Linked DNA regions of Homo sapiens. The protein of the gene in region 1 purifies or fractionates together with the protein of each later gene. This does not show direct contact. Each region holds a gene or a part of one and is shown on either strand. Other genes may lie near its edges.

Evidence for each region.
Region 2: the proteins of CLK3 (region 1) and PSME3 purify together in Homo sapiens (affinity purification with mass spectrometry; 6 studies listed by BioGRID and IntAct, with this or other methods). This does not show direct contact.
Region 3: the proteins of CLK3 (region 1) and CDC37 purify together in Homo sapiens (affinity purification with mass spectrometry; 5 studies listed by BioGRID and IntAct, with this or other methods). This does not show direct contact.
Region 4: the proteins of CLK3 (region 1) and TNPO3 purify together in Homo sapiens (affinity purification with mass spectrometry; 5 studies listed by BioGRID and IntAct, with this or other methods). This does not show direct contact.

What each region holds. Positions count from the first base shown.
Region 1 is NC_000015.10:74,618,818-74,625,837, forward strand, and holds part of CLK3 (dual specificity protein kinase CLK3), read left to right. Parts: intron 1-379; coding exon 380-531; intron 532-1,191; coding exon 1,192-1,408; intron 1,409-3,302; coding exon 3,303-3,399; intron 3,400-3,676; coding exon 3,677-3,743; intron 3,744-6,084; coding exon 6,085-6,201; intron 6,202-6,984; coding exon 6,985-7,020. UniProt on the Homo sapiens protein: Dual specificity kinase acting on both serine/threonine and tyrosine-containing substrates. Phosphorylates serine- and arginine-rich (SR) proteins of the spliceosomal complex.
Region 2 is NC_000017.11:42,828,647-42,836,413, reverse strand, and holds the start of PSME3 (proteasome activator complex subunit 3), read right to left. Parts: upstream 3,018-7,767; 5' UTR 2,783-3,017; coding exon 2,741-2,782; exon of another isoform or gene 2,475-2,740; intron 2,321-2,474; exon of another isoform or gene 2,233-2,320; coding exon of another isoform or gene 2,158-2,232; intron 2,071-2,157; coding exon 2,038-2,070; intron 1,900-2,037; coding exon 1,837-1,899; intron 1,643-1,836; coding exon 1,538-1,642; intron 1-1,537. UniProt on the Homo sapiens protein: Subunit of the 11S REG-gamma (also called PA28-gamma) proteasome regulator, a doughnut-shaped homoheptamer which associates with the proteasome. 11S REG-gamma activates the trypsin-like catalytic subunit of the proteasome but inhibits the chymotrypsin-like and postglutamyl-preferring (PGPH) subunits.
Region 3 is NC_000019.10:10,400,543-10,408,111, forward strand, and holds the start of CDC37 (hsp90 co-chaperone Cdc37), read right to left. Parts: upstream 3,001-7,569; 5' UTR 2,938-3,000; coding exon 2,836-2,937; intron 1-2,835. UniProt on the Homo sapiens protein: Co-chaperone that binds to numerous kinases and promotes their interaction with the Hsp90 complex, resulting in stabilization and promotion of their activity. Inhibits HSP90AA1 ATPase activity.
Region 4 is NC_000007.14:129,045,105-129,052,124, forward strand, and holds part of TNPO3 (transportin-3), read right to left. Parts: intron 1-7,020. UniProt on the Homo sapiens protein: Importin, which transports target proteins into the nucleus. Specifically mediates the nuclear import of splicing factor serine/arginine (SR) proteins, such as RBM4, SFRS1 and SFRS2, by recognizing phosphorylated SR domains.

The DNA.
Region 1 (7,020 bases):
GGGAGGGAATAGAGTGCAGGAGGCTCCCCTTTCTCCTGCCTTTGATCTCCCTGTGGTAGTGTTCACCGTCCCCACCCAGGGTTACTGCCTCAGCCCCTGGCCCTGGCTCACCCAGTTCCCTGAGCACCCAGGCCACCAGGCTAGTGATGCTCTGCTGGGAGCTGTTTGTTTGTTCACTGGCAGAGAAAGTTGTTTCCTATTGTCTGCTGTTTGACCAGTGTGACCTCAGAGTTCTTCTTCACTTCATAAACCTCTGGGAGGGGCCGCCTTCAAACAGAACAATGGGCCTCTTCAGGAGCAACCGGGAAGCCCCAGCAGCCCCATGGCTGGAGGTGGCTGGCTGTGTGTTTAGCAGGGCTCTCTGTTCCTCGTGGCCTAGATGCATCACTGTAAGCGATACCGCTCCCCTGAACCAGACCCGTACCTGAGCTACCGATGGAAGAGGAGGAGGTCCTACAGTCGGGAACATGAAGGGAGACTGCGATACCCGTCCCGAAGGGAGCCTCCCCCACGAAGATCTCGGTCCAGAAGGTGAGAGGGAACTAGATAGGAGGGAAAGACTCCTTCTGTCAGCTGGGCTCAGCTGTGGCAGCTCCAGACTCCTTGAGATGACTCCATCCCTGCCCAGCTGTCCCTGGATCCCTGCCCTGTCCTCTTTGGGCTCCTCCACTAACCTCACCTGCATGCCTTGGCCTCAGCAGTAGCTACCATCCTTGCCGCCCACTCTTTCTCTGTCTTGGAGTGCCTTTTCTTCTCCCCACACATTCCCCCATTTTCTAGGCCAGCATCTTTCCGCTTAACCTCCTAAGCCTTCCTTGGTGAGGATTAGGAACATAACCTCACCCCTGGAAAGTTTGCTCCCTGGGCCTATCTTAGCTCCCAGGTCAAACTTAGAGTTGCAGCAGGCCACAGGGAACTCTGGAAGGGTATAGAACCCTTGGAGGCACTCTACCATACTCCCCTTCCCCTGTACCCCTCCTCCTACAGCTGGAGGATGCTGTCGTTGGACAGGGCTCTGGAGGGCGGGCTTAGTACCTTTGCACCCTCCCCTCTCTGCCCACTTCCCACCAGTGTGGATGCTTTTAGCACAGGCTGTCCCCCTTTAGCCCTTTACAGTGGCCTTACCACAGGTCTCTTGCTTGCTAACAGCAAGGACCCAGCTGACCAGCGTCCCCATCCCCCTTTTGGCAGCCATGACCGCCTGCCCTACCAGAGGAGGTACCGGGAGCGCCGTGACAGCGATACATACCGGTGTGAAGAGCGGAGCCCATCCTTTGGAGAGGACTACTATGGACCTTCACGTTCTCGTCATCGTCGGCGATCGCGGGAGAGGGGGCCATACCGGACCCGCAAGCATGCCCACCACTGCCACAAACGCCGCACCAGGTCTTGTAGCAGCGCCTCCTCGGTGAGTGGTAGCCAGAGTGTGCTGGCTGGGGCTTAAAGGCCTCATCTCTTCCTAGCCTTCTCTCAGGCTGGCTGGTCCGGGTGAGTACTGCCAGCCCTGTGCACGTGCACTGGTGTGCGTGCATGTGTGTGTGTATGTGTTGTCTGGTCCAGGTGTAGGGCTGATCACAGGGTCCTGGCCTCTGTGTCTTCTGGCTCTTTCCAGTGGCAACTGTAGGAACTCTGGCTCCGATGCTGGCTGGCCCCTGGCCTGTCTATGTCTACACAGTGCTCCAGACAAAGGCCACGTGGTGCAAGTGGCTGGGGACACTTCTTAGGACACTTCTTAGGGATCCTAGTAGAGTGGCTGGTATGGTGGTCTGCAGCTATATGGCCTGGTCCTTCCCACCCAGAGACTGCCTCCTCGTGTAACTGAGTGCTCTGATGTGGACTGCACCCACCTCTGCGTCTCATCTGCACACCCCTTCCCAAAGGCCCCCAGTCTGGAGTGCCTCACAGGACCGGAGGATTTGCCTGTCAGCCAGCTCAGACTGGGAACTTCCCTTCTGATCTCCAGCCAGGCCCTCTCCAGCCGAGCCTCTTTACGAGGGGCAGTCGCGGTGAGGAGGGGCAGGTGCCTGTGTGATGGGGCATGTGAAGAAATGGCAGAAAGGCTGCCGCCCCAGGCCTCGTCCAGTTGCAGGCCACATGCCCAGAGCAGGGCCTGGCCAGTATTCCTAGCATGGAGGGTTGTAAGGTCTCTGGAGCCCACATTGCGCTCAGTCCCCTGGGGAAGCAAAGCCAGTTGTGTATTTCCGAGGTTACGTGCGGTCTTCTCTTCTCCCCCATCCCTCTTCCCTGCCTCCCTCCTGCCGGCCTTGAGGCCCCTGAGGAGCAGTGGAGAGGCCAGGTGTCTTCTCTGCCCAGCGCTTTCTGTGACTTCTTTGAGTGGCTACAGGTTGAGGGTTGACTGTGCGGGCGATTGCAGCGTGGCCCTTTCACCTCTTTGCACACTGCCACATGCTGCCACAGGATGGCAGTGCAGGTCTGGCTCTGTTTCTCTGTTTGGTGCCCTCTATCGATCGTCGTGAGGCTTGGGATGGGCCTAGATTGTGAGCAGCATGGGTGCCAAGGCCAGGGCAGGAGCTGGCATGGGGCCTGTGTGGGCCATTGTGGTAGGAAGCCTGGCAGTCGACTGGCCCAGAGGATCCCAGGCTGCTTTCCTTCTTGAGGCTGGTGGCAGGAGGGCTGCTGACGGAAGGCTGTTTCTGGTAGTGATGGTGAAATCTGGCCAAGGATGCCGTCTGGAGGCAGGTAGCAGCTTGGCTGTGAGTGGCAGCTGTCAGGCATGTGCAAGTCTGCGTGGGCGAACAGAGGCAGGCAAGGACAGGCTGGGCATTCTGCAGCTGAAGCCGGAGCAGCCGCTGACCAGTCTGGATGGTTGGACCCAGGCGGGGCCAGCTGCCTTCTTGCGCCGCCGTTCTCACTGCATCTTCCGCTCTGGCCCAAAGCCACATGGGAGGGTCTGGGAGGGAGAGACTCGGAGGAGGAGGAGGAGGGAGTCGGGGCGATGGCTCTCCTCACAGCGTGGCCCTCAGCAGCAGAGGCAGGTCATCTTCCTGAGCGTTTGTGGCGCTCCTCTTAAAGATAATGTCCGAGTTTTCTTTACATACCTGTAGCTGTTTTTACTTTTCTGTTTTTGAAGTCAGTTTGTGTCTTGACGTGTCCCTTGCAATATCCCTATCGTTATATATGCTGTGTGCCTTATGAAATGCTGGGATCTGGAAAATCCAACCAACCAACCCACCGGCTCCTCACCGTCTCCACCTCTGCCTTTGACTGACACCTCAATCTGTCAATCGGAACCGCCTACCATGCGATTGGTCGGATGGCGTTTCGGGGGGCGGTGCATGCAGAGAAGCCAACAGAGCAGTAAGCGCAGCAGCCGGAGTGTGGAAGATGACAAGGAGGGTCACCTGGTGTGCCGGATCGGCGATTGGCTCCAAGAGCGATGTACAGCCACCTTTCGTAAAACTTTACCTCTCTACTTTCTACCCCCCTTGTTAGACGAGACCTCTCCTGCCTGGAGGGGCCTCTAGTGCGCGTGGTGCCTTAGCGGGGCCACCAGTAATTGCCTGAATGACACAGACACTAGCAACTTCCATTTTTAAGAGTGTAGCAGTGAGAGAGAAACCTTTTTTGTTTTTGAGAATTTGAATGCTGTGAACTTGCAGGAGCTGCCAACCCCCTGCCCTCCAGATTCTCATGCCCAATTTCTTTTCTCTCCTAGATGAGATTGTGGGGAACCTGGGTGAAGGCACCTTTGGCAAGGTGGTGGAGTGCTTGGACCATGCCAGGTGAGCGAGCTGCGGCAGTACAGCTGGCTCCGGATGTGATCTTCCTGGGAAGAGCTGGCCTGAGGTTCTTGAGGGTGGCAGCTATCAGAGCTTAACTTTTTTCTTTTTGAAGGGTGGCATCAAAGTAGGGTTCCGACCTGTCCATGTTGGGGTTTTGCTGACCCCCTGTAATAAGGGAGAAATTCTTGGGTCCTGCAGTTATGTGGCATCCCTACCCAAGAATTGTTGGTCAGTGAAAGGTTCTGCTCCAATCTCTTCACTTCTCCAGGGCTGTGGTGGTGGATATCAGAACAGGGCCAAGGCCCCGGCTCCCCTGTGGCTTGGAGCTGCTTCCTGTGATAACTTTTAGGTTCTTGGCTTAGCAAGGGGCTAGGAGTACCAATAAGCCCAGCCCAAGCATAAGTCCCATTCCCTGAGGGTCTGCCTGAGAGGCTGTGCAGATCTCAGTCGAGAGAAACATGACCCTGGGCTTTCTCACCAAGCAGGCTGCTGCCTTCTTCAGTGTGACTAGGGTAGTGTGTGGTCTCCGCTGAGTGTGCCTGGGAGAGTGGGGTATACCTGTGTGTGTCATGCTGCACCTCACTCTCTCCCAAGCCCAACAGTACAATAGTTTTTTCCCCTTACCATTCCACAAGACTAGAACATTTGCTTCCTCTCCTATAGGTCTGGGTTGGGGAGGCCACCTCCAGGGAGCCAGTTGCCACCCTGCCATAGGCTCTCTAGTTGGTTTGGCACTTCAGCTACAAAGTGCTTGTGTCCTCATTGGAGCCACATGCCACCCATATGTGGCCCTCTCGCTATTTCAGAGATGAATAAACATGCTCAGGGTTTGCCTGCATCATACTCCAGTTAACAGCAGAGCTGGCCACCACTGCGCTGTAGTGCTCCTACATTAAATGGGGTGTTCAGGTCATTCAGACCCAGGCGTCCAGCCTTTCCTGTGGCCACGAGATAGACTGAGAGGAAGTGTCCATTTGCTCCAAGTTCCTATGTAAATGCCTGTACGACTCAGCGTGGCCCAAGAGGTTAGGGTTGGGACCAGTGGGTGGAGGGACATGCACAACCACACCGTGGCCAGGTGGAGACATGGCAGACTCAACAGCCGGGATGCATGTAGGCATTCTGGGCTGCTCCTCTCTCAGGAGCTGGAGGGAAAATGAGCCTCTGGAGTCACTAGGGGGCAGGTGGAGGGTCCAGGGAAACTTTACGGGACTCAAAGGGAGCCAGGGCCAGTGGGGGTTGTCATGCAGAGGCAGAATTCAGCTCAGCGAAAGGCAGGGTCTTATTCTAAGAGCAGTGCAACTCTGACAGGGGCTGCCTTGGAAGTGATGAGCTCCCTGTGCTGAGGACTGGAATGCCACGGAGGGACCCTGTTTTAGGAGGAGGCCGGAGTGCATGGCCTTTCCCCTGAGGTCCCTTCCTGCCCTGAGAATCTGGGAAAATAGGTAGGGAGAAAAAAGCAGGGGATTCTCTAGAAGGTCCCTTTATCCTGGGCCTGTGAGCCTTAGGCACCACAGTCAGCCTCCCTGAGGCCTCAGAGGACACGCCCTTCCAGGCTAGGACTGTCTCGTTCCCCACTGGGCATCTGAATTCTAGCTGTCCTTTCCTGACAGGGCCTGGCAGTTGAGCCTCAGCAGGTTTCCTTCTCTGCTGGCTCCCTGCAGATGGCCTCCTGGGGTGAGGTTGGGGGTGGGAGGCACAGAGCAGGGACTGTTAAAACCTTCTTTGGACACTTAAGAAGGGTTCCTGGCATTTTGTGGTCACTGATAAACACTGTGGCAGGTAGGTGCGGCTGGAGAGGGGTGTGGTAAAGGGAGTGGCCCTGGGCCTCACAGTGAGAGGTACCCTTGCTGGTACCCCTACCTCTTGCCAGATCTTTACTCGATCCTGGAACCCCCATCCCTGTTTGCTCAGACTTGCAGACAAGCTCAGGAAGGTCAAGAGGCGCCGCAGGAGGGTTCTCGGTGGGACAGCCTGGCCAGGGTTGGGGCTGCCTGGCCTATAGGTTAGGTCACTGTGTGAGCTCTTGGACTGGCACTGGTTAAGCAGGATTGGCCTCTACTCTCCCACACTCCTTTGGGAGCTGGCAGTGGCTGAGAACATAAAAGCCTAAGGATGGCAAGGATGCTAAGAGCATTAACTCACAGATCTCAGGGAGCTTGCTGTTGGGTGGGCAAAGGTCTGGTGTTGCATGGGGCAGGCTGGGCATCCAGTATCTGCTCTCTTCAGTGCCGGCTGCTCCTGGAGTGGTGTTTGTTGGGAGTTGCTGGGTTGGGGTGGAGGGTTGGGGAAGGACTGGGCAGCTGCTGATGAGAACCTCTGTTTCCTTCCCGGGTACCAGAGGGAAGTCTCAGGTTGCCCTGAAGATCATCCGCAACGTGGGCAAGTACCGGGAGGCTGCCCGGCTAGAAATCAACGTGCTCAAAAAAATCAAGGAGAAGGACAAAGAAAACAAGTTGTGAGTATCTGCAAGGAGTGGGAGGGAAGCCTTCAGTGGGGCTGCTGGACCCCCAGGGGCTTAGTAGTGTGCCTTCACCCATCCGCACTGTGCCTTCTCCCCACACTCAGAACCAGGGGAGTGTGGCAAAGGTCTTGCTGGAAGCCTTTAGACTGCAGTCCAGTCTTCACCCCAGCTGTCTCTGTGTCCTGAGGAAGGCCTCCCAGCCCTGCGTTTTGTGAATTGGGGAGCTCACTGGGTTATGCTGGGCATAAAACAAGATAAAAACATGAAGTTGGGGCTCTCACATAGTAGGAGATACCCAAAGGAGGGCCTTTCTGTGGCAGACACACTGAGCACTCTCCTCCACGCACTGTGCTGAGCCTGGGCAGATGGGTGAATCCAGCACAGACCCTCACGAAGCTCAGCAGAGTGAGCAAGTGGAGAAAAGCAGCACCAGTCCTGCGGAGTGCACTAGCACTTTCCATCTCTCCCTCAGCAACTCTGAGGCAGGGCTGCTTCCATATCATAAGTAGGGAAGCTCGGAGGGCTTGGACCAGAACCGTGGACATCTCCCCTACCCCCCGCAGGAAGCTTAGTCCTTGCCCAGAGCTCATCTGGGTATTGGGTGATGGCTGGTGGGGAGAGGTGCTCTTGCTCTGATTTCTCTTGCACTGTGTGTATCTGCATTCTGGTGTGTGACCCGGTGGCCTAGGAGAGAGTTGGGAACTGTCTTCATCTGAGAGAGGGGGTGAGGCAGGCCCCCAGCACACAGCCTGAGCCCTGCCCATCCTCCTCCTCCAGCCTGTGTGTCTTGATGTCTGACTGGTTCAACTTCCA
Region 2 (7,767 bases), on another chromosome or scaffold:
GTTCCACAAAGGAACACATTATTCAGTTAACAAACATGTATTCAGCAATTGCTAGGGACCAGGATCAACACTAGGTGCTGGGAATACAAAGATTAAGATAGCTCCTGCCGGCCGAGCACGATGGCTCATGGCTGTAATCCCAGCACTTTGGGAGGCTGAGGCGGGCGGATCACCTGAGGTCAGGAGTTCGAGACCAGTCTGGACAACATGGTGAAACCCTGTCTCCACTAAAAATAAAAAAATTGGCTGGGCGTGGTGGTGTGCACCTGTAATCTCAGCTACGTGGGAGGCTGAGGTGGGAGAATCACTTGAACCCGGGAGGCGGAGGTTACAGTAAGCTGAGATCGCGCCACTGCACCCAGCCTAGGCAACAGAGTGAGACTCTGTCTCAAGGAAAAAAAAAAAAAAAAAAAGATAGTTCCTGCCTTCCAGATGTACAAGTTCAACAATGAGGCAGTACTACAGACAACAATACGGTATCATCAGTGTTATAGTAGCATGTGGACACATGACTGATAAGGACTAGGTGTTAGAGATGCAAAGCAAAGATAGCAATTGCAGTTACATAGCGAGAACTGCATATCCCATAACACTACTCAAGACATGCAAACAAATATAAGCAAAGTCTTGTTCAGAGCCATGGGAAAAACCAGGTAACCTGATGAAGCTAGTTCTCTTTTTTTTTTTTTGAGACAGAGTCTCGCTCTGTCGCCCAGGCTGGAGTACAGTGGCGCAATCTCAGCTCACTGCAAGCTCCGCCTCCTGGGTTCATGCCATTCTCCTGCCTCAGCCTCCGAAGTAGCTGGGACTACAGGGGCCCACAACCACACCCAGTTAATTTTTTGTATTTTCAGTAGAGACAGGGTTTCACGGTGTTAGCCAGGATGGTCTTGATCTCCTGACCTCATGATCCGTCCACGTCGGCCTCCCAAAGTGCTGGGATTACAGGCGTGAGCCAAGGTGCCTGGCCTAAGCTAGTTCTCTTTTATTTGAAACTCACTCTAACACTGACAGTAGCATTAGCACATTCACTTCACGTCGTAAATGAAACTGAGGGTCTAAAAGGAATATACTGGAGTCCCCGTGCAGTGACTCACGCCTGTAATCCCAGCACTTTGGGACGCTGAGGCGGGTGGATTACTTGAGCTCAGGAGTTTGAGACCGGCCTGGGCAACATGGTGAAACCCCATCTCTACAAAAAATACAAAAATCAGTGGGCATGGTGGTGGACTCCTGTAGTCCCAGCTACCTGCGAGGCTGAGGAGGAAGGATCGCTTGAGTTCGGGAGGTCAAGGCTGCAGTGAGCAGCATTCCCGCCACTACACTCCAGCTTGGGCAAAAAAAGTGACACCCTTTCTCAAAAATAAATAAATAAATAAGAAATAAAAGAACTATACTAGAGTCATCATGTCTGTAACAGAGTCCTAGTTCCCAGATCCAAATCCCACTGTTCCCTCTGTACATCTTAAACTGACAAGGAAACAGAGGACAGAGGACCTACTGCTCAAGAACACAAAGATAAATATAGGACACTTACACCATCCAGTCCATCATGGCTATTGGTGAGAAGAATGGGGTCAGGGACTGGGAGATTCATGTCAGAGTGGATCTGAGTTAGGTCATGGATGTTTAAGATTGGTTCCTGAAAGACACCCACCCCAAAACATTAATCTTTTCAAGCTGAACAAAGAAGTATTTGATTTGAAGAGCAAGAAATGAAAGTGCTTTTACAGTTTAAAAAAATAAAAAGAAGAAGAATCAACAGTTTATCCCAGTTGACAGTAATACCAGGGCCAAAAAAATTGGGGAATTTGAGGAAAGAATAGGGTCTCTCACCTTCAGAAAACTATCAAGTTCTAATAACTTCTTTGGGAAAAAATTTGCCACCAAGTCTTCTGCCTAAGGAAGAGGGAAAATACAGCTGAATTAATATCTGTGGGAAGGTCTCTCTCTCTCTCTCTCTCTCTCTCTCTCTCCAGGTATCTCCTCTTTGGGAAATTCTCAACCAACAACCATTTTTCTATTTATTTCACTCACCTCACTTGTGATCCGCTCCCTGAAAGAATCAACCTAAAATTAACAAAGAGAGCAATTCAGTACCTGGGGACAGAGGTAAGAGCAGGATGGAGAATCCCAATCCAACTGTCTTTCCCTCACCTTGTAACTGTAATAAGAAGCTGAGAGGCCCCCAGACTGCAAATACTTTATTTTTTTGAGGATCCATTTTTCCATCTCAGAAGAACGCAGGGCTTTGAGGACAGCACCTGCCTGTCTCCTCTGTCCTCCCCCTTCCCTCCCTTCCTCCTGTGTCTGAAGCTGTCTGAATTTGATAAGCAGACAAAAGACAGGTAGTTAGGGAAGATGTGAGCTCACAAACGTGCCAACCCCCACCCAGACCTAGTCTATGATACTAGGCAGGCCAGCCGCCAAGGGCAGGGGCAGTGTCCAGGGACGTTGTTGGGCTGGGGGATTACCAGCTGTCACGGGCCTAAAGCCCTGAGTCCAACACGTGTCCGCGGAGGTGTCCCCGGGACTCTCCATCATCAGACGCGGTACAGAAAGCCATCCTATATTTTCCTCTCCCGCGAAGCCGACCCCGGGAGTTGGGGGCTGGGCTGAGCCGAGCGGAAGCTCAGAGCTGGTATCCCCAGGGAGACAAAGACGCCATGGGGAGTAGGAAGCCGGTCAGACTGCTGGGGGATCAAAGCGAGGGGCAAAAAGGCCGGACCGGTGCCGCTACCTTGAGCTTCACTTCCTGATCCACCTTCAGCAACGAGGCCATGGCCGGGCCGGGCCGTGTCCGATCCTCTGGACACCGGAGGCGCTGTGGACTCCAGGGAGGGGGCCGGAGGGACCTGAGAAATCTCGGCTGACCTCGGGACCCGACCGCCCTTGCTGGCTTACTCACTGCTCGCTCGCTCCCTCCCTCTGTGCCGTCCGCCCGCCCGCCGGCAGCCTGCTGCCTGCTTGCTCTCTCGCTCGCCCTCCCGGCTTTCGCCGCTCACGCCGGAAACTGCGTCACAGCCAATCGCCGAGACTCCTGCGAGGCTGTGCACGTGCGCTGCGCAGCCGCGATGAGGCATGGCTTTGGACGCTCCCAGCGGGGTTCACACTGCCGGGGTCAAGTGTCGGGTAGGGGTAAAGTAAAAAGGAGAGCTGTGGGGAATGGTGCGCTGAGAACTGAGCCTCCGAGAGACTCGGAAACGGTGCGGCCCTCTCTGTTGTCCCGGAACTCGCCTTCACCGAAGGGACCTTCTCAGCCGCTGCACTCCCGGGGACAACGCCGTCGCGCCCCAGTGACGTAGGCTCGGGGAAGTCGGGGACCCGGGTACTGGGTTCGGGGGTGTAGTCCCTGATTCCCGCTGCCTCTGCCCGTTTGCCGAGGCTCAAGTGTTTAGGCTAGAGCGAAAAAGACAAGCGCCGTTGTACCAAGCTTTCCTGGTACATTTCCCTGCCAACTGATTCTCGTAAGCTTCCAGACCTCAAAGATCAACTACCTAATTGGCAAATTGATCCCCAGAGTAGGGTAGGGCTTGTCCAAGGCGTTTCCAGTACATCCTGAGCCAGAACCCAGATCTCCTAACTTCTACGGCAGTGCTGTATCTATTTGCCTAGTGGAAGCATGAGACTATACCTCTTCATGCACCCATTCATTCGATCTCTCTCTCTCGACATTGGATATATCATTCAATAAAATGGGGCAGGGCACTGTGTCAGATTCTAGAAATATGTGAGTCACATATGTAGGTTGAAATCTTCTAGTAGCCACAATTAAAAAGTAAAACAAGTGAAAATTTTAGTCATACATTTAACCCAGTTTATACAAGTATTTCAACATGTAATCAACATTTAAAAATCGAGATCTTATGCATTCTTTTCTCATACCAAGTCTTCAAAATCCAGTGCGTATTTTACACTTAACTGCACATCTCAATAAGGCAACACCACATTTGTAGTACAGTGCTCAGTAGCCACATGTGGCTGCTGGCTTCTGTATTGAAGAGCACAGCTCTGGGAAATCAAAGGCAAACAAGATTCAAGGTCGCTGGTCCCATGGGGCATAATATTGGAAAAACACCAGAAAGTAAACTGACAAGGTAACTGCAAAATTTGATAAATGTTAGGGAAAAAGTGGATGACATAGAAAATACGAGAGATCTATTTTAGATCGAATGGCCAAGGAAGGCCTCTGAACAGGCAAGCTGTGATCTAAAGGATATAAAGAGGTTAGCATGGAAAGAGTGAGAAGAGCCTTGAGAGGTATAAGGGCAGCTCAGGCAAATGCTCTAGGGAAGGAAAGAGATTGTCTTGAAGACAAAGACTAGTGAGCTGAGGGTGAGGAGGGTTGTTAGTAAACAATCTAGATTAAGTGCAAAAGGAGGTCATCAGATTTGTATTTTGGGGTCGCTCTTGCTGTTGAACATTTATCCTAGGCTGGCCTCTCTACTAAGTGCTAGGAAAATGAGGGGAATACACAATTAAATGGAGTAAAGCACAGAAGACTGACTATGGCCTTTGGGATCAGAGACCTGGGCTTCAAATCCCACCTCAGCTCCTTACTAACTGGAATCTTGGGCAAATTATTGAAATGCTGAGTCTCGATTCCCTCATCTGTAAGATGGAATTTTAATAATTAGTAATAAATAATAGTATGTAATTTTGTAGTGTTGTGAATATTAGAAATAATATATGTAAAACAATTAGCACAGTGCTTAGACACAAAATAAATAGTAGCCACTGTCAGGTAAGTAAGTGATCTGTTAATGCTTAGCATGAAGAGGTTACTCCTTAAATTACAGTAATTATTTCCATTCCTGCTTTCAAGCTCAAAGTCCTTTTCAGCTTATAGAAGGCCACATATAACATCATGCTCTATCAGTTTTCCCCCTTTTACATGTTTTCTGTTAACACATTTCCCTGGGAACTTTTGAGATCCGATTTGAAACTTCAGGAATTATTTCCCACATTTACTCCATTCTATTTTAAGTATGCCACTATTCTTATTCCAGTCAGAATTTATAACATCAACTGGAAAAGCTAATATGTTTGTGCCTGTTAAAATATGCTTTGTTCTCAAATAATTATGTTTTGTCTCCTTCAAGTAGGTTATAAGACAGATACACATTCTCTTTATTTCCCTTCCTCCTCCCCATCCAAGTGTTTAATATAATACTCCATTCATTTGTTTATTCAGTGAACAACTGGAGAGTACCACTACACTTAACAATAACTATTCATTTCTGGGTGCTTACAAGTCACATGTGATCACTGATGACTGGTCTAATTTTAAATTCATGTCCCAAAATCTCAAATGAGTGCACAACACTGCCTGAGCTCCTACTACATGCTCCTGACAAGTTTGCTCTCCCACCCTCCCAATGACTATCATACTTTCTCATCTCCCTGAACCTCCAGTATTCCTTCTCTCCCACCTCCAACTTATGGCCTGGGCTCATTCTTTATTGAGAAAACAGAAGCAGATGAGAACTACCTCATCATCTCACCACCAAATCTGCCAATCTGCAAAATACTTTCTGCCTTTCCTCTTTCATTGAAGGAAACAAACCTGTTCCTATCTCTTCCTTTTGTGCTTTGGATTCCATCCCCTTTGACTTTCTCAATCCCATGTCTGTGCCCATGATTAGCCCCTCTTTTTCCTACATCACATCCTCTGCTGGGTCATTTCCAGACATAACCAATATCCCCTATCTTGAGAAAACTCCCCCCCGAATCCAGATTCCTCTGTAGCTGTTACTCCCTTTCTGTGCTCTCCTTCCTGGCAAGACTTCTTGAATTATTTATTGTCTCTTACTCTACTTCCTCATGCCCCATTTACTCCAATCCACTCTAATCAGACTTCTCAACCCCACTTTCTCACTGATATAATTTTTGTTAGGTTACCAATGACTACCATGTTGACACCAGTGGTCACCTCTCATCTTATTTGAATCTCTCAGTAGTACTCAATATATTAGCCACTCCCCTTCTTAAAATACACACAGCAACCTGTTCTGATCTTTCTCCAGCCTCAACAGTGATTCCCCATTTCCTTTGCTGGCTCTTCCTCCTCTGCTCCACTTCTTAATGGTGGCATGCTTCAGGAGACTTAGGTCCTTTATTCTCTGCTTACACTTTCTCCCTAAGAGGATCTATGCATGTTCGGCCAGGCGCGGTGGCTCACGCCTGTAATCCCAGCACTTTGGGAGGCCGAGGCGGGTGGATCACGAGGTCAGGAGATAGAGACCATCCTGGCTAACACGGTGAAACCCCGTCTCTACCAAAAATACAAAAAATTAGCCGGGCGTGGTGGCGGGCGCCTGTAGTCCCAGCTACTCAGGAGGCTGAGGCAGGAGAATGGCGTGAACCTGGGAGGCAGAGCTTGCAGTGAGCTGAGATCGCGCCACTGCACTCCAGCCTGGGCGACAGAGCGAGACTCCGTCTCAAAAAAAAAAAAAAAAAAAAGAGGATCTATGCATGTTCATAGCTTTAAGTATCATCTGTATTCGGCCAGACACGCACGGGGGCTAATGCCTGTAATCCCAGCACTTTGAGAGGCCAAGGCAGGCAGATCACCTGAGGTTGGGAGTTCGAGACTAGCCTGAACATGGAGAAACCCCGTCTCTACTAAAAATACAAAATTAGCTGGGCGTGGTGGTACATGCCTGTAATCCCAGCTACTCGGGAGGCTGAGGCAGGAGAATCACTTGAACTGGGGAGGTGGAGGTTGCGGTGAGCCGAGATCGCGCCATTGCACTCCAGCCTGGGCAACAAGAGCGAAACTCCATCTCAAAAAAAAAAAAAAAAAAAAAAATCTGTATGCTGATTTGAGGGCCCCAGATTCGTATCTCCCATCTGACATCTTCACTGAGTTCTAACCATCTATTTGATGTTTCTACTTGGAAACCTAATGAGCATATCAAACTTAACATGGCCAAACCAGAATTCTTGATTCTCCCACACACCTGTTATTTTCCTATTCTTCTCCATCTCAGTAATTGACATAACTGTCCACCTAGTTGTTCAAACCAAAAACCTAACAGTCAACCTTGATTCCTCTCTTTTCCTCGTCTCTCCACATTCAACCCATCAGCAGGTCCTGTCAGCTTTCCCTGTATAATGCATCCTGTATGAGTGTGCTTTCCTCCATCTCTTGTTACCCTGGCCAAAGCCACTGTCATCCTTTGCTAGGACTATTACAATAGGCTCCTATCTGGTCTCTCCATTTCCACTCTTGCCACCCCCCACCAACTGTCACATTCTGTTCTTCACTCAGCACCAAAATTTATCATTGATTGATTGACTGACTGAGACAGGGTCTTGCTATGTTGTCCAAGTTGGTCTCGAACTCCTGGCTCAAGTGATCCTCCCGCCTCAGCCTCCTGAGGAGCTGGGATTACAGGTGCACACCAGGCCAGCTCAAAATAATCTGCTAATATGTCAGCCACAGAGATGGTAGCATCTACTCAAGCTGAATATACCTAAAGAGAGAGAGAGAAAGAGAAAGAGAGAGAGAGAGATCCCAGAAACCTCAACTCTAGGGACCCACCCAAGAGAAATGCATAAATATATTCACCAAAAGACATGAACAAGAATGTTCATAGCAACACTATTCACAATAGACCAAACTGGAAACTACCCAGATGCCTCTTAACAGCAAGAGAGATATCTATATTTTAATATAGTCACACAATGGAATACTACAAAGTATTGAGAATGTATGAACTAAAACTACACAAGGTGGGTGAATCTCATGATGAGCGAAAGGAA
Region 3 (7,569 bases), on another chromosome or scaffold:
TACAAAAATCAACCAGGCATGGTGGTGTGTACCTGTGGTCCCAGCTACTCAGGAGGCAGAAGTAGGAGGATCACTTGAGCCCGGAAGGTGGAAGTTGCAGTGAGCTGAGATGGCGCCACTGCCATCTCAGGGTGACAAAGCAAGGCCCTGTCTCGAAAAAAAAAAGAGAGAGACAAGGTCTTGCTATGTTGCTCAGGCTGGACTTGAACTTCTGGGCTCAAATGATCCTTCTGCCTCAGTCTCCTGAGTAGCTAGGACTATAGGCATGTGCCACCACATGTGGCTACAGATTTTTTTTTTTTTAACCATGAACAGAAATTATTTAAATGATGATGATGATAATAGCCACTGCCCCAAAAGGATTACAAATATTAAATGAATAAGGTAAGCCTTACAACAACCTTATGGGGTGGACATCATTCAGATTCTCAGGTAGGGAAACTGAGGCACAGAGCGATCAAACAGCTCCCTGGCAGTCACGCAGCACGTGAGTGATACAGACAGAGCTGAGATTTGAACCTAGTCAGGCCTGTGCTCTGAACGACAGCAATCTCTCCTTCCCCTCCACAATGCTTCCTTCCAAACCTGCCCCAAGTTTTCCTGACCCAGTCTTAATTCATTCTTACAAAGGTCTCAGGGAGGTGGGGCCATATTATCCCAGGTTTCACATGGGCTCAGGGAGGCTTCTTGTGAGTCTTGCCACATCAAAGAAAGAAAGAAGCAGCAAGAGGTGGGGCTAGGATTGGAACCCAAGCTTGCCTGTCCTTGAACCTGTGCTGGAGACGCTGAAGCCCCCTGCCTCCCTTACATGCCACTACAACCACCGGGGTTCTCAGCGGCAGGACAGGAAAAGCTCTGTGCCAGAGGGAGGAGGGTGTGGCAGGTACACTACGCTGCAGGAGGGGGGCCCTCCCACCCGGCAGGACCAAACCATTCTCCACAGTAGTAAAGATTAACCTCTTTATGTGACAGAAATAGGTCTTCCCAAGAATAGTCTTTGGAGCTTTGAGGAAGTCTTAAATATTTCATAATAAAATGTTACACACGGCAAGAAATAGAAGCGCTAGAACTTTCTTCCCACACTCCAGTGGCTTGCTTGGCAGGTACACTACCCAGGAGACTCAGGATTTAAGGAATAGGTCTGGAAGTGGGACTGGGAGCTAGATGAAGAGACTAATGCCGTATTCCAGAGTATTCTGGAAGGATGGGAAAGGGACCTTCTAGTTGTTTCTGGATAAATGATGGGGAATTGCCCTATGGGAGGGTGGGGTAAGAGATCCTCACTAGAAGGTTCTGAGAGGTATATGCCCTTCGTTTAAGAGCACAACATGGCTGGGTGCGGTGGCTCACGCCTGTAATCCCAGCACTTTGGGAGGCCGAGGTGGGTGGATCAACTGAGGTCGGAAGTTCAAGACCAGCCTGACCAACATGGAGAAACCCTGTCTCTACCAAAAATACAAAATTAGCCAGGCATGGTGGTGCATCATGCCTGTAATCCCAGCTACTCAGGAGGCTGAGGCAGGAGAATCACTTGAACCCGGGAGGCAGAGGTTGCAGTGAGCCAAGATTGTGCCACTGCACTCCAGCCTGGGCGACAAGAAGGAAACTTCGTCTCAAAAAAAAAAAAAAAAAAAAAAAAAGGAATACAACAGACACTGGTATGTAATGCAGGCACACTCATTTGGGGTAGCAGGAGGTTAAACCTTTAAGTCTTAGTCATCCCATTGGCTCGTGAGCACTGAGAGGGTGGTGGGACATGGATCACCCAGGCTTGGGATTCTGGGGTCTGGATTCGGGACCTCTGTTGTGGTCAGATAGAAGAAGGGGTGGTGAATTTAGAATCAGACCAGGAGAGTCCCTGGATAAGAGCAGGGACAATTTGGGTCACAGAGTAGCTAACAGGCTGGGGACAAAAGGTGGGGTGGGTTTGGGGTTCTGGGCTTGAGTTAGGGGAGAGTTTCCAATGCTGGCTGAGGCTCATACAGGAAGCCAGTCTGGGAAGTGGGTGGTGACAGGGTCTGCAATACCAAGTAGGAGCAGGGGCTCTGGCTAGGCCGGAAGCCACGTGGGCAGGATTTCCTGGTATAATGGGAAATGGGTCTACCGGAGGCCAAAGGAGAGGCTGGAATGTGAGGCTCTATCGGGTTGGAGCTGGTAGTTAGATCCAGAGGGGAACCAGATTCCAAAACCCAAGTACTCGGTGAGACTAAGGATCCTGAAGGGGGACGGTTCTACACTCTAGGAAGGGGGTCCTGGGTGTGGGCAGGGACAGGAATATCAGAGTAGCACAGAGTTCCTTGTTCCGTTTAGAAAAGGAGTGGCGACTCCGGATCTGAATGGGAACCCCGGATCAAGATCCCGGAAAGTAGATCCCGGGACAGACCAAAGTATTGGGGGTCCAGACTACGGAGGTGGGGGGGCGATGGGAGATCCCAGATAGGAAGTGAATACCCGAATAGGATGAGGGATCATCTAGAAGAATTTGGGGTCCAAACTTTGAGGCAGAGTTCTGGGTATAAATGTTAACTGCCGAACAGAATTAGGGAGAACCCCCAAGACTCGTCTAGGGGACTCCAGACTATGAAGAAGTTCTAGGGGGTGAATAGGGAATCCCACGCAAAAATCGGAGCAGGGAGTGGGGGAGCGGAGATCCAGGGCAGGGACTCAGGGTCCCAATGGTACTGGGGTCCCGGAGTTGAATCGAAGCTCCTGAAAATCCAGACTGGGGGGGTGAGAATCCTAGGTGTGAACAGCGGGGTCCCTGGGCAGTATCGGGGATCACAACTCCGAAGCGGGGTCCGGGAGTGGGGAAAGGGATGGGCGCGCGCGCCTTACCTGATGCCGCCAGCGGAAGAGACTGGCCGTGTCGATGTTGGGGTGCGTCTCGTCTTCATCATCAGACACCTCAATGTGGTCCCACACGCTGTAGTCCACCATCTTGCCTTGGCGGCCCAGCCCGCTCCGGCTCGGGTGGCGGCGACGGCGGCAGCAGTGGAGACTAGGAGCGCGGAGCCCCGCCCCTTCCGCTTCCGCCGAGCGCGGGAAACCCCGCCCTGTGTGACGTCACATCCCTAGTAACCGCGGCAGCGGCACTAGCTACCCAGCCAGCCTTAAAGGGCCCTGCGTAAGTGTTCCGGCCCCCTGGAGTTCCCGCAGAGACTCCGCGTCATCGGGCGCTGGGGCTCCGCTAGGTCTCCTGGGGGCATATGAGTGCGCGCTTCAACTCCGAGCCCCCCTCATCTCCCGCCGCTCCACGGTGGGCGTTTGGGGTGGCAGGGAGGGGACGGTTGATGAGACTGAGAGGACTGTCCCCTCAGCCACGCCGCAGTGACGTCTGCAAGGGGTAGGGACACGGCGGGAAGGCCCTCCCCCTGCCCTTCGTAAACGGGGACCTAAGCCTGCGCTGGAGAGGGGCGCCTGATGACTCCTCGGACTTTCTCAGCCCGAGGAGGACTGGACCTGCCCTGGGGGTGTCTAAATCGGGGGTGGTATGGCCCTCCCCTTGCAGGGTTAAACGTGGAGGGGAGACTGTGGCCCTGCCTTGGGAGCTGGGGTTTCCCCGCCTCGGCAACAGCCTTCTCCTTGTCTTCCACCTCCTGCCATTCGCAGCGAGGACTCGCGCGAGCGCGCGCGCGCACACACACACACACACACACACACACGCACACACACACACACACACACTTTGGAATCACCCGGACCCCCTCAAAACGGGTCTCGGCTCCCCACCCCGCTGGCCGCTGGGTGTCGCTAGAGTCTAGCCCACGGCGCGTATTCCTGGCCCCGCGCTTGGTGGGGGGAATCGTGGAGGGGTGGAAGGGGGCTTTCCTTGTCGTCACAGTCTGGGGCCACGCATAGCCCCTCCCCGTTCGTCTTGGGGTACGCTTCCTCCGCCGGGGCTCTAAGGACTCCATTACTCTAAGCATGCAGGGCCTCGACCACCTCACACTTCCATGCATCCCAATCCACGCTTTGATACCAGGATAATAGGCCGTGTTGCAGCCTTGGGCCAGGATTATCTCAGATTAAAGGGTGCTCCCTCGGGGGTCAGGCTGGATAGGAGGAGCTCCAGCCACTCCGGTGAGGGGCGCCTCTTCCTAGTCTCCCCTGGAGCCGACGTTGGAGGCAGTGCCTGGAGAGAGCGAGCGAAGTTCTCCAGAAGGGGGAGGATTCCCCGGTGCATGGAGCGGGAAGGGCCATCGGACAAAAACGTCCTCCCGCTGCCGCCCTTCCCCCTCGCGCTTCATTCAAACCCGCGAGTGGGCGGGCAGGGGCGGGGGAGTCCCCATCTCCTACCCCTCCCTCTTCCCCTCCACCCTGGCAGTCCAGCACATCAGTGGCCGTCACGGCCCGGGCACGCGCGCGCACGGACCCACACCCCGGCGGCTCTCACAATCGCACACACACATACACACACACACCAGCAAACAAAGGGTCTGGACACCCCCGTCCCCTCCCGCCCCCCAGGCCAGGGAGGGCGGGGCATCCCCTCCCCAGGCCCCCCGCAAGGTAAGCTTGGGGCTGCGAGCTGCGGTGGGGAGGGGGACACGGTGCCACAGTGGGAGGGGGCCAGGAAGGTAGGGGGTTCCCCGGCTCCCCAGGAAAGTCGTACCCCCACCCCCACCGTATGCCCTTTAGGGATTCGGCCCCGTCATCAGCCTGGGGGTGTTTGGAGAGAATCCCAGATGTCGGGGATTCCCGGATAGGCGCGGGGGTCTCTTCCTGGCTCTGGAGACTGGAGCTGCCCAGCTTCAGCAAAACAGGGTTCCCGGAGCCTCAGCTTCCAGAACTGGGGATAGAGCGCCGGAAGCTTCCCCATCAACCCCAAGCATTTCCTAATCTGCCAGCACAGCACCTCCAGCCCTGGGGACTGAGGAGAGAGACCCCTAAGTTGCTTTGCACTGTCCCTCTGTCCCCGGTCCCCATCCCACCCCCATCGGTGCAAACCCTGCTATGTCTCTCCTGCCTGTGTGTGTGTGTGGGGGGGAGGTTTGCGGGAATTGGGAACGCTTTTTGGGGCTACCTTTGCTTCTTCTGCTACATCCCATAGCCACATACCACTGAGCTGCGGTGGGGCCCGGCAGGCGGCTTTGCCTTCCTGAGTCTCAATTTCCTCCTCTGCAAAGTGGGTAATGACACACACCTAGGATTCCGCGAAATCGTGCTCGCGGAGCCTGCTTTTGCGCCATCATTTTATTTATTAGCTCATTTCACATCTCTTTCCCAAGTGTCTACTTACGATGTACTGGGCACTGTGACCAGGCTTTGGGGCAGCAGCAACCAACAAACCCAGTAGGGGTCCCTGCTCCTGGCTAGTGAGGGAGCAGGATCCCTGTATAAACATACAAATCCCCGCGGGTGATTTCAGACTGTGAAGACTAAAATTCTGTCCTCGGACAGAGAGAGACTAGGGAAAGGCACTCAAGATTAAAGGAGAAGCTGGGCACAGTGGCTCACGCCTGTAATCCTAGCACTTTGGGAGGCCGAGGCAGGCGGATCACTTGAGGTCAGGAGTTCGAGACCAGCCTGGCCAACATGGTGAAACCCCATGTCTACTAAAAATACAAAAATTAGTCGGGCGTGGTGGCAGGCGCCTGTAATCCCAGCTACCCGGGAGGCTGAGGCAGAAGAATTGCTTAAACCCGGGAGGCGGTGGTTGCAGTGAGCCAAGATCACACCACTGCACTCCAGTTTGGGTGACAGAGCAAGACTCTGTCAGAAAAAAAAACAAAAAACAAAAAACAGATTAAGTAAGACTTCTGGATCCTGCCTGCCTTCCTCCTTGGGTCTGAGCTCATGAGGGCAGGATCAGGTCTAGAACAGTGCCTGGCACACAGTAGGTGCTCAATAAATGTTGAATGAGCGTGGCACCCTGGTGTGAGCCTGTAGTCCCAGCTACTCGGGAGGCTGGCTGGAGGATCCCAGCGACACCCATCTCTAAAAAAAAATAAAAACAAAAAATAAATCCTTAGCTGGGCATGGTGGCACACGCCTGTAGTCCCAGCTATTCAGGATGCTGAGGCAGGAGAATGGCTTGAACCCGGGAGGCAGAGGTTGCAGTGAGCTGAGATAGTGCCATTGCACTCCAGCCTGGGTGACAAGAGCAAAACTCAAAAAAAAGAAAATCTTAAATGAATTAAAGAGGGGATTAGTTTAAGACTAGATTCTAGAACTGTAGATTAGGAAGAAGGCTTAGCATAAACCAATCCACCCCACTCCCTTGAATTTGATACAGGAGACAGTGAATCCCAGAATGTCAACATTTCTACAAAATTGAAGATGGGCCCAGCACGATGGCTCACATCTGTAATCCCGATAATTGGGAGGCTGAGGTGGGAGGATCACTTGAGCCCAGGAGGTCGAGGCTGTAGTGAGCCATGATCACGTCACTGCACTTCAGCCTGGGAGACAGAGTGAGACTCTGCCTCACCAAAAAAAAAAAAAAAAAAAAAAAAGAAGGTGGTTAAAGCAAGGGTTGTGAACAGCTGTGGACAGAGACCAGAACTGAGCACTGTGTGCCCAGGAACTCATGGTGTCCAGCCAGTGCCCACTCTTCCCCACATAGCATATAGACACAGCACTGCTTTCATCTATTCAATATTTATTCAGCACCTACTATGTACCAGGTGCCAGGGACACAGCAATTAACAGAACAAAACTCCCTGCCCCAGTGGAGCTGACATTTAGTGGAGGAAACTGAAATGAAATAACATGATCAAAAAGATATAATGACACATTGTTATTAGGATACTGATAGAAATAGAGGGTGTGGCTGGGTGTTTAGAAAGACTTCCTGCAGAAGCTGAATTCAGCACACACACACTCAAACCCAAACATAATCCCACTAATACACATCACAGAAAAGTGGCCATGGGGACTGAGTGGCTGAGCAGAGATTTAAACCTGGAACCTGCATTTCTTTTTTCTTTCTCCTTTTTTTAACTAATTAATTTATTTATTATACTTTAAGTTCTGGGATACATGTACAGAACGTGCAGGTTTGTTACACAGGTATACACGTGCCATGGTGGTTTGCTGCACCCATCAACCTGTCATCTACATTAGGTATTTCTCCTAATGTTATACCTCCCCTAGCCCCCCACCCCCCAACAGGCCCCAGTGTGTGATGTTCCCCTCCTGGTGTCCATGTATTCTCATTGTTCAGCTCCCACCTATGAGTGAGAACATGCGGTGTTTGGTTTTCTGTTCTTGTGTTAGTTTGCTGAGAATGATGGTTTCCAGCTTCATCTATGTCCCTGCAAAGGACATGAACTCTTTTTCCTTCCTTCCTTCCTTCCTTCCTTCCTTCCTTCCTTCCTTCCTTTCTTTCTTTCTTTCTTTAATTGAGACAGAGTCTCACTCTGTCACGCCCAGGCTAGAATGCAGTGGCTCGATCTTGGCTAACTGCAACCTCTGCCTCCCGGATTCAAGTGATTCTCCTGCCTCAGTCTCCCGAGTAGCTGGGATTACAGGCACGCGCCACCACACCCAGCGAATTTTTTGTATTCTTAGTAGAGATGGGGTTTCACCATATTGGCTAGGCTGGTTGAAAACTCCCAACCTCAGGTG
Region 4 (7,020 bases), on another chromosome or scaffold:
GGCTAAATACTGTATGATTCCACTTACATGAGGTACCAAGAATAGTCACATTCATAGAGACAGAAAGTAGAATGGTGGTTGCCAGGGATTGGGGCGGGGAGCAAATGGGCACCTATTTTGTTTAGTGGGCATAGATTTAGTTTTACAAGATGAAAAAGTTTTGAAGATGGATGATGGTGATGGTTGCACAACAATGTCAATGTATGTAATACCACTGAACTGCACACTTAAAAATGGTTAAAATGACTGGGCACGGTAGCTCATGCCTGTAATCCCAGCTACTTGGGAGGCTGAGGAGGCAAGATAGCTTGAGCCTGGGAGTTTAAGGCTGCAGTGAGCTATGATCGCACCACTGCACTCCAACCTGGGCAACAGAACAAGACCCTGTCTCAGAAAAAAAAAAAACGTTAAAATGCTAAATTTATGTTTTGAATGTTTTGCCACAAAAAAAAAAAAATCTATAAAACCTACTTTCCATTTCCTCCATAAACATCAGTGCAATCAATCACTGTAAAAGAATGCTGAAGAAATATCTGAAAAACTTTGGAAAAACTATTGTAATTAGAAAATATAGTAGTACCCTGATAATTTTACATCCTAAATCAAACTATCAACTTTGGCCCAAGGCCTGGCAAGACAAGAAACTAATCAAAATATGGAGAAATGCCACCACATAACAGACTACCATGGCAACAGAAATACTGTCACAAAATCACAAACATAGACTCCAATACTTCAAAGACATGAAATGTTCTATATTTGTACCGTACAGTACTTGGAATGTGGGTAAGTGCAAATAAGAAACTGATTTTAGGCCGGGCGCAGTGGCTCATGCCTGTAATCCCAGCACTCTGGGAGGCTGAGGTGGGTGGATCACGAGATCAGGAGATTGAGACCATTCTGGCTAACACAGTGAAACCCCATCTCCACTAACAATACAAAAAATTAGCCAGGCATGGTGGCATGCACCTGTAATCCCAGTTACTCGGGAGCCTGAGGCAGAATTGCTTGAACCCGGGAGGTGGAGGTTGCAGTGAGCCAAGATTGCACCACTGCACTCCAGCCTGAGTGACAGAGTGAGACTCCGTCTCAAAAAAAAAAAAAAAAAAAAAAGAAACTGATTTTAACTTTTACTTAATTTTAAGTTTAAATAGTCACACTAGACTGGTGGCTACTACACTGGATGACACAGCTACATTGGTACACTCTCTGGGAGAAAGATCTTTGGTTTTCATTATTTACATACTCCCAGTTTCTATCAGTGCAAGGCACAGAGTATTCCTAGACTGAACTCATCTACTGAAGTTGTATAGGAATATTTTCTATTTTCTAGAAGGCTTTCCTTTCAAAAGCATGTTTTGACTGGAAGGTGCAAGCATAAGCACACACAAAAAATGCCTAAACTTTCAAGATAAATCAGTAATGACCAGAGAAAAGCCAAAAACCCTAGGTTTTATAACCAGGCTAAAGAATCAATAAATTCCAAAAAGGAAAAGTACTAGCAAAGAAGTTTGAAGCTGATATTCCATGACCCATGTATTAATGTGTTCTCACACTGCTAATAAAGACATACCCAAGCCTGGGTAATTTATAAAGGAAAGGGGTTTAACTGACTCAGTTTCACATAGCTGGGGAGGCTTCACAATTATGGCGGAAGACGAAGGAAGAGCAAAGCGACGTCTTACATGGCGGCAGGCAAGAGAGAGCTTGTGGAGGGGAACTCACATTTATAAAACCATCAGAACTTGTGAGACTTATTCACTACCACAAGAACAGTATGAGGGAACCCCCCATCATGATTCAATTACCTCTACCTGGCCCCACCTTGCCACAAATCGGGGGGTATTATTACAAGGTGAGATGTGGGTGGGGACATAGCCAAACCATATCAACCCAAGACCTTTCTGATATGATATCTAAGAAGAAAATTCCTATGGACATGTGATAAACCAAACATGACAATGCCAACTTAGTCTATCAAAGCATGACTTTACTTCATCTGCTTTGTGCTTTTGATGCTTTCCATCAAAAAGCTGCATACACCCATGCTGAAGCATGCCTATTCAGTTTCCATACTGAACTATAAAACTTTTGAGGTAATATCTAACCCAAAGATTGTCTCTGTAAAAGTTATCTCCTACTTACAACTTAAATTAAAAACTTATAACTGAGTCGCTTAAGTAATTGGCCCTATGAAGAGATGGTCTTTCCTTCAATAGCTCTCTACAACTTCTACTAATTTTGGTTAGTAGGGGTGGACAAATGAAACTACTAAATATACAGGACAGGCTACTAAGATTCCTTTAAGATCTGCCTCAAAATACTCTCTTTCAGAACACTTTGAAGTTATCAGTGATATCTATCTATCACATAAAACAACCATGGCTGTACATCTCCAAAAATTTTGGTGGAAGTTTAGAGCAATGAATACAGATTCTTCAGAAAATGGCTGTTTTATACAAATATTAGAGAAAGAGAAAAGATGCTAACTCACAGTACAGGCTAAAGCATATTCAAATTATACCTCTATACCACGTCTACTGTCACCAGGTCATTCGAACTATACTCAATTACTCTCGGATTAGTTAGGTGGGGTGGTAGAGAAGAATAAGGATAATAGTTTCACAAATACATATTCTTGAAAGTAGTTTTTTAGCAAACCACACAAATTCTATGCCTTACCAATTTCAAATGGATGTTAAAACACTATAGTTATTACTACAGTTAAAACACGCTTTTGTTCCAGTAGACAAAATCTTCCGGAAAGAAAAAAACCACCACACACATTACTTTTGGTTACAAATGCCATTTAGTGACCACTTAAAGAGAGCCTTGGCCAGGCACAGTGACTCATGTCTGTAATCCTAGCACTTTGGGAGTCTGAGGTGAGAGAAGTGCTTGAGCCCAGGGGCTTGAGACCAGCCTGGGCAACATGGCAAGACCCTGACTCTACAAAAAATACAAAACATTAGCCAGGTATGGTGGTGCATGCCTGTAGTCCCAGCTGTCCAAGAGGCTGAGGTGGGAAGATCACCTGAACCCAGGCTCAGGTGAGCAAGGCTGCAGTGAGCAGTAATCACACCTCTGCGCTCCACAGCCTGGGTAACAGAGTGAGACCCTGTCTCAAAAAACTAAATAAATAGACCAGGTGCAGTGGCTCACACCTCTAATCCCAGCACTTTGGGAGGCCAAGGCGGCCAGATCACTTAAGGCCAGGAGTTTGAGACAAACCTGGCCAACATGGCAAAACCCCAATCTCTACTAAAAATACAAAAATTAGCCGGGCATGGTGGCATGTGCCTGTAGTCCCAGCTACTTGGGAGGCTGAGGCAAGAGAATTGCTTGAACCCAGGAGGCGGAGGTTGCAGTGAGCCAAGATGGTGCCACTGCACTCCGGCCTGGGCAACAGAGTGAGACTCTGTCTCAAAAAATAAATAAACAAAGAGAGCCTTATTGAGTCAAAAAGTTCCTCTCCCTTTCTGTACCTGAATATTTGCAAGTATGAAATGAGGGCAACATATACATCTCATAAAGGATTTAAAAAAAAAAAAGAAAGAAAAAAAAAGACTGGAAAGACTGAAGAGCATTAAAGGTGCTGAATATTGTTTATTTTTAACCATGTATATGGTGAAAAGTGACAGCAAAAATAAATAAAACTCGCAGATAAAGAAAAATGTGAGTTATCCAACTGAGTATCTGCATGTATGCACTTCTGACAATCAACATTTTTAAGAACCTGTGTGTGAAGTGTCTTGATTGTTTATCTTAATAACCATGGTTTATTTCTTCAACTATGGGTATTGGACTACATAAACAAATGTGACAAGAATCCCAGTCTAGTAGGGGAGGCAAAACACTTATTTTCAAAAAGGTTTATAAAAAGGCAAACACAATGAAGTAAAGTTCTCTAGGCATTCATTGGGGGCTGAAATCACTTTTGGCTGAAGAGAAGCAGGTAAGCCTTGAAGGAGAAAGCAGAATTTAGGTTGGGCTTTCAAAAGATGAGTTAGTTTCTGCATTTGAAGAAAGGGTTGGGAAAGGGTAAAAGCAGAGAAGAAAGTAAAGTTGGGCAAAGGCGGCATCCACTCTACCCCAAAATATTTGTGTACTATGAGAAATATTTCAGCTATTTGGATGCTGATGGGAAAGACTCAGTAAAGGAGTCTAAAGATGCAGACAAGACATAGGATAAACCAAAAGATCAAGGTCCCAGAAATTTCAGAAGATTGAGAGATGCAAAGCACCTAGATCTGACAAGAGGAGAAGCAGCTGCATACAACCATGCTGAAGTCTGACCAAATTGGAGGGGAAAGGTGATGGTGTATTTATAAAATGACTAGAATGATAGATCTTGGAATCCACATTTGGTAAGGAGAGAAGTAAAAACAAGAAGACCTAATAAAGAAGAAGTAAGGAACAGTCAATGAACTGAGGTTTTGATAAAATTCAAGAACTAATGCAGGGACTTCTGTTTAAAATGACTAAACTAACTGATTGAACACAGCTGTCTGCTTTCAGGTCCTTCCAAAAATCCAATAAAAATCAGAGTAAAGATCTTTTTTAAAAAAGGCAAAAACACATAAAGACAAAGAAAATGGAAACAGGTGACAGATATCAATAGAACTGTGGAAACTGGAAAGCTAAAGGACAGTGTTAACTGTCTTAGCAGATCCGAAAAGGCTGATATTTGCCTGGGGGTGGGGAGGGAGGATGAGACGAGAATAGGGAAGGCAAGGGACAAACTATTCATGTTGCAAAACCCAGGAAGACTGGGGAATTGGAAGCACAGGTACATCTGAAGGCAGATGCACAGGCGGAACAAAAAATAAAGGAGTGGAGCTGGATGTGGTGGTGTGCACCTGTAATTTCAGCTACTCAGGAGACTGAGGAGAGAGGATTGCCTGAGACCAAGAGTTCGGGTCCAACCTGGGCAATATAGCGAGACCCCAACTTTTCTTTTCTTTTTTTTCTTTTTTTAAAAAGGGTGAGGTGGGGTGGGCTGGGCGCAGTCACTCATGCCTGTAATCCCAGCACTTTGGGAGGCCAAGGTGGGCAGATCACAAGGTCAGGAGACCGAGACCATCCTGGCTAACATGGTGAAACCTTGTCTCTACTAAAAAATACAAAAAATTAGCTGGGCATGGTGGCAAGCACCTGTAGTCCCAGCTACTCTGGAGGCTGAGGCAGGAGAATGGCGTGAACCCGGGAGGCGGAGCTTGCAGTGAGCTGAGATGGCGCCACTGCACTCCAGCCTGGGAGACAGCGAGACTCTGTCTCAAAAAAAAAAAAAAAAAAAAGGGTGGGGGGGGAATCGGCTAGTAATGCAGCCTTAAAACAAAAAAAGAAAAAAGTTTAAATAAATAAAAGGGTCAAAATCTGTGTAAGAAGCAGTAGACTCCTAAATTTCCTCTCTGACTCTGAGCAACCAGGCTACTACTCTCCCACCATAACAGAAGACTCAAGGTTTACTGTGGAAAGATTGAAGTAGGTGGTCTCTGGACTCTTAGACAACAGACTCAGCTAAAGACAGGAGTATCATGCTGAAAAACAAGAGATTAAATTAAAACCTACATACTTAGTTGTGAGATCCATCCCCTGGCTTCATTCCCTGAACTGGCTTTAGAACACTGGCAGTCTAGCTTATAACCCCCAGGCTGACTAGAGAACTCAAGGTAAAAGCAGCCCAAGAAAAACAGACCAACAGAAAAGCAATGAGAGAAAGGATGAAGGTTCCCTTCTCGATGATCCATTAAATGGAAGAGTAACCCAAGAAAACATCATGGAATCCAAGAATCAGTGGATCCAGCACAACAAAGAGGCAAAGGGAATTCCCTAGGACAGTGTTTATGGAATCCCATGACAGTAATTATCCAACAGACCTAGCGAACCAGGCCAGACTGGAGCAGGGAAATGGAGGGCTCTTGGGATACATATTTCCTTTAGCCAAAAAAGAAAACAAATCACCAGTCTGAACAATGAGGATATTTACAGTACTGAGATTTGAGGGTGACTTATTGTGGATACCCAGAAAACAAAATGTTAAAAAAAAAAAGAGGTATTTGATTACCAACAGGAAAAAAAAGGTTCCACAAAATTTTGTTTTAAAAATAAAACTTAAATATTAGTAAAACTACATAAAGATTTCAAAAAAAACTAGGTGACATTATTTGATATTTTTGAGCCAGCAAACTGGAAAACAGTGGGTTATGATCACAGCAGAATGTCTGAATCAGTGATTTGGAGGTGTGGTGACTTTTTTTTTTTTTTTGTACAATCTTGCTGTTTCCCAGGCTAGAGTGCAGTAGCGAAATCATAGCTCACTCAGTCTTGAACTCCTGGGCTCAAGGGATCCTCCTGAGTAGCTGGGACTATAGGCAAATGTCACCACACCCAACTAATTTTCCTATTTTTTTGTAGAAATGAGGTCTCGCTATGTTGCCCAGGCTGGTCTTGAACTCCTGGGCTCAAGGGATCCTCCACCTTGGACTCCCAAAGTGCTGGGATTACAGGCAAGAGCCAATGGGCCTGGCCTGGCTGGCAACTTTTTTGTTTTTTTTGAAATGGAGTCGCGCTCTGTCGCCCAGGCTGGAGTGCAGTGACACAATATCAGCTCACTGCAACCTCCACCTCCTGGGTTCAAGAGATTCTCCTGCCTCAGCCTCCTGAGTAGCAGAGACTACAGGTGCGCACCACCACGCCCAGCTAATTTTTGTATTTTTAGTAGAAACGGGTTTTCACCATGTTGGCCAGGCTGGTCTCAAACCCCTGACCTCAAGCGATCCGCCCGCCTCAGCCTCCCAAAGTGTTGGGATTACAGGCGTGAGCCACTGCACGCCCAGCCTGGGTGGTGGCTTTTTAGTAAAGACAAGATCCAGGGTGTGATTGTGTGACCAGGTGGCTAAAGAGAATGAAGAGGTAAAGGAATCAGAAGGCCAAAGTGTTAGCTGAACTGTCAATCCAGATGCTGAAGTTGCCTAAACGTGATGTGTTACTGCTGGATATTTTCCAGATCCACTTTTC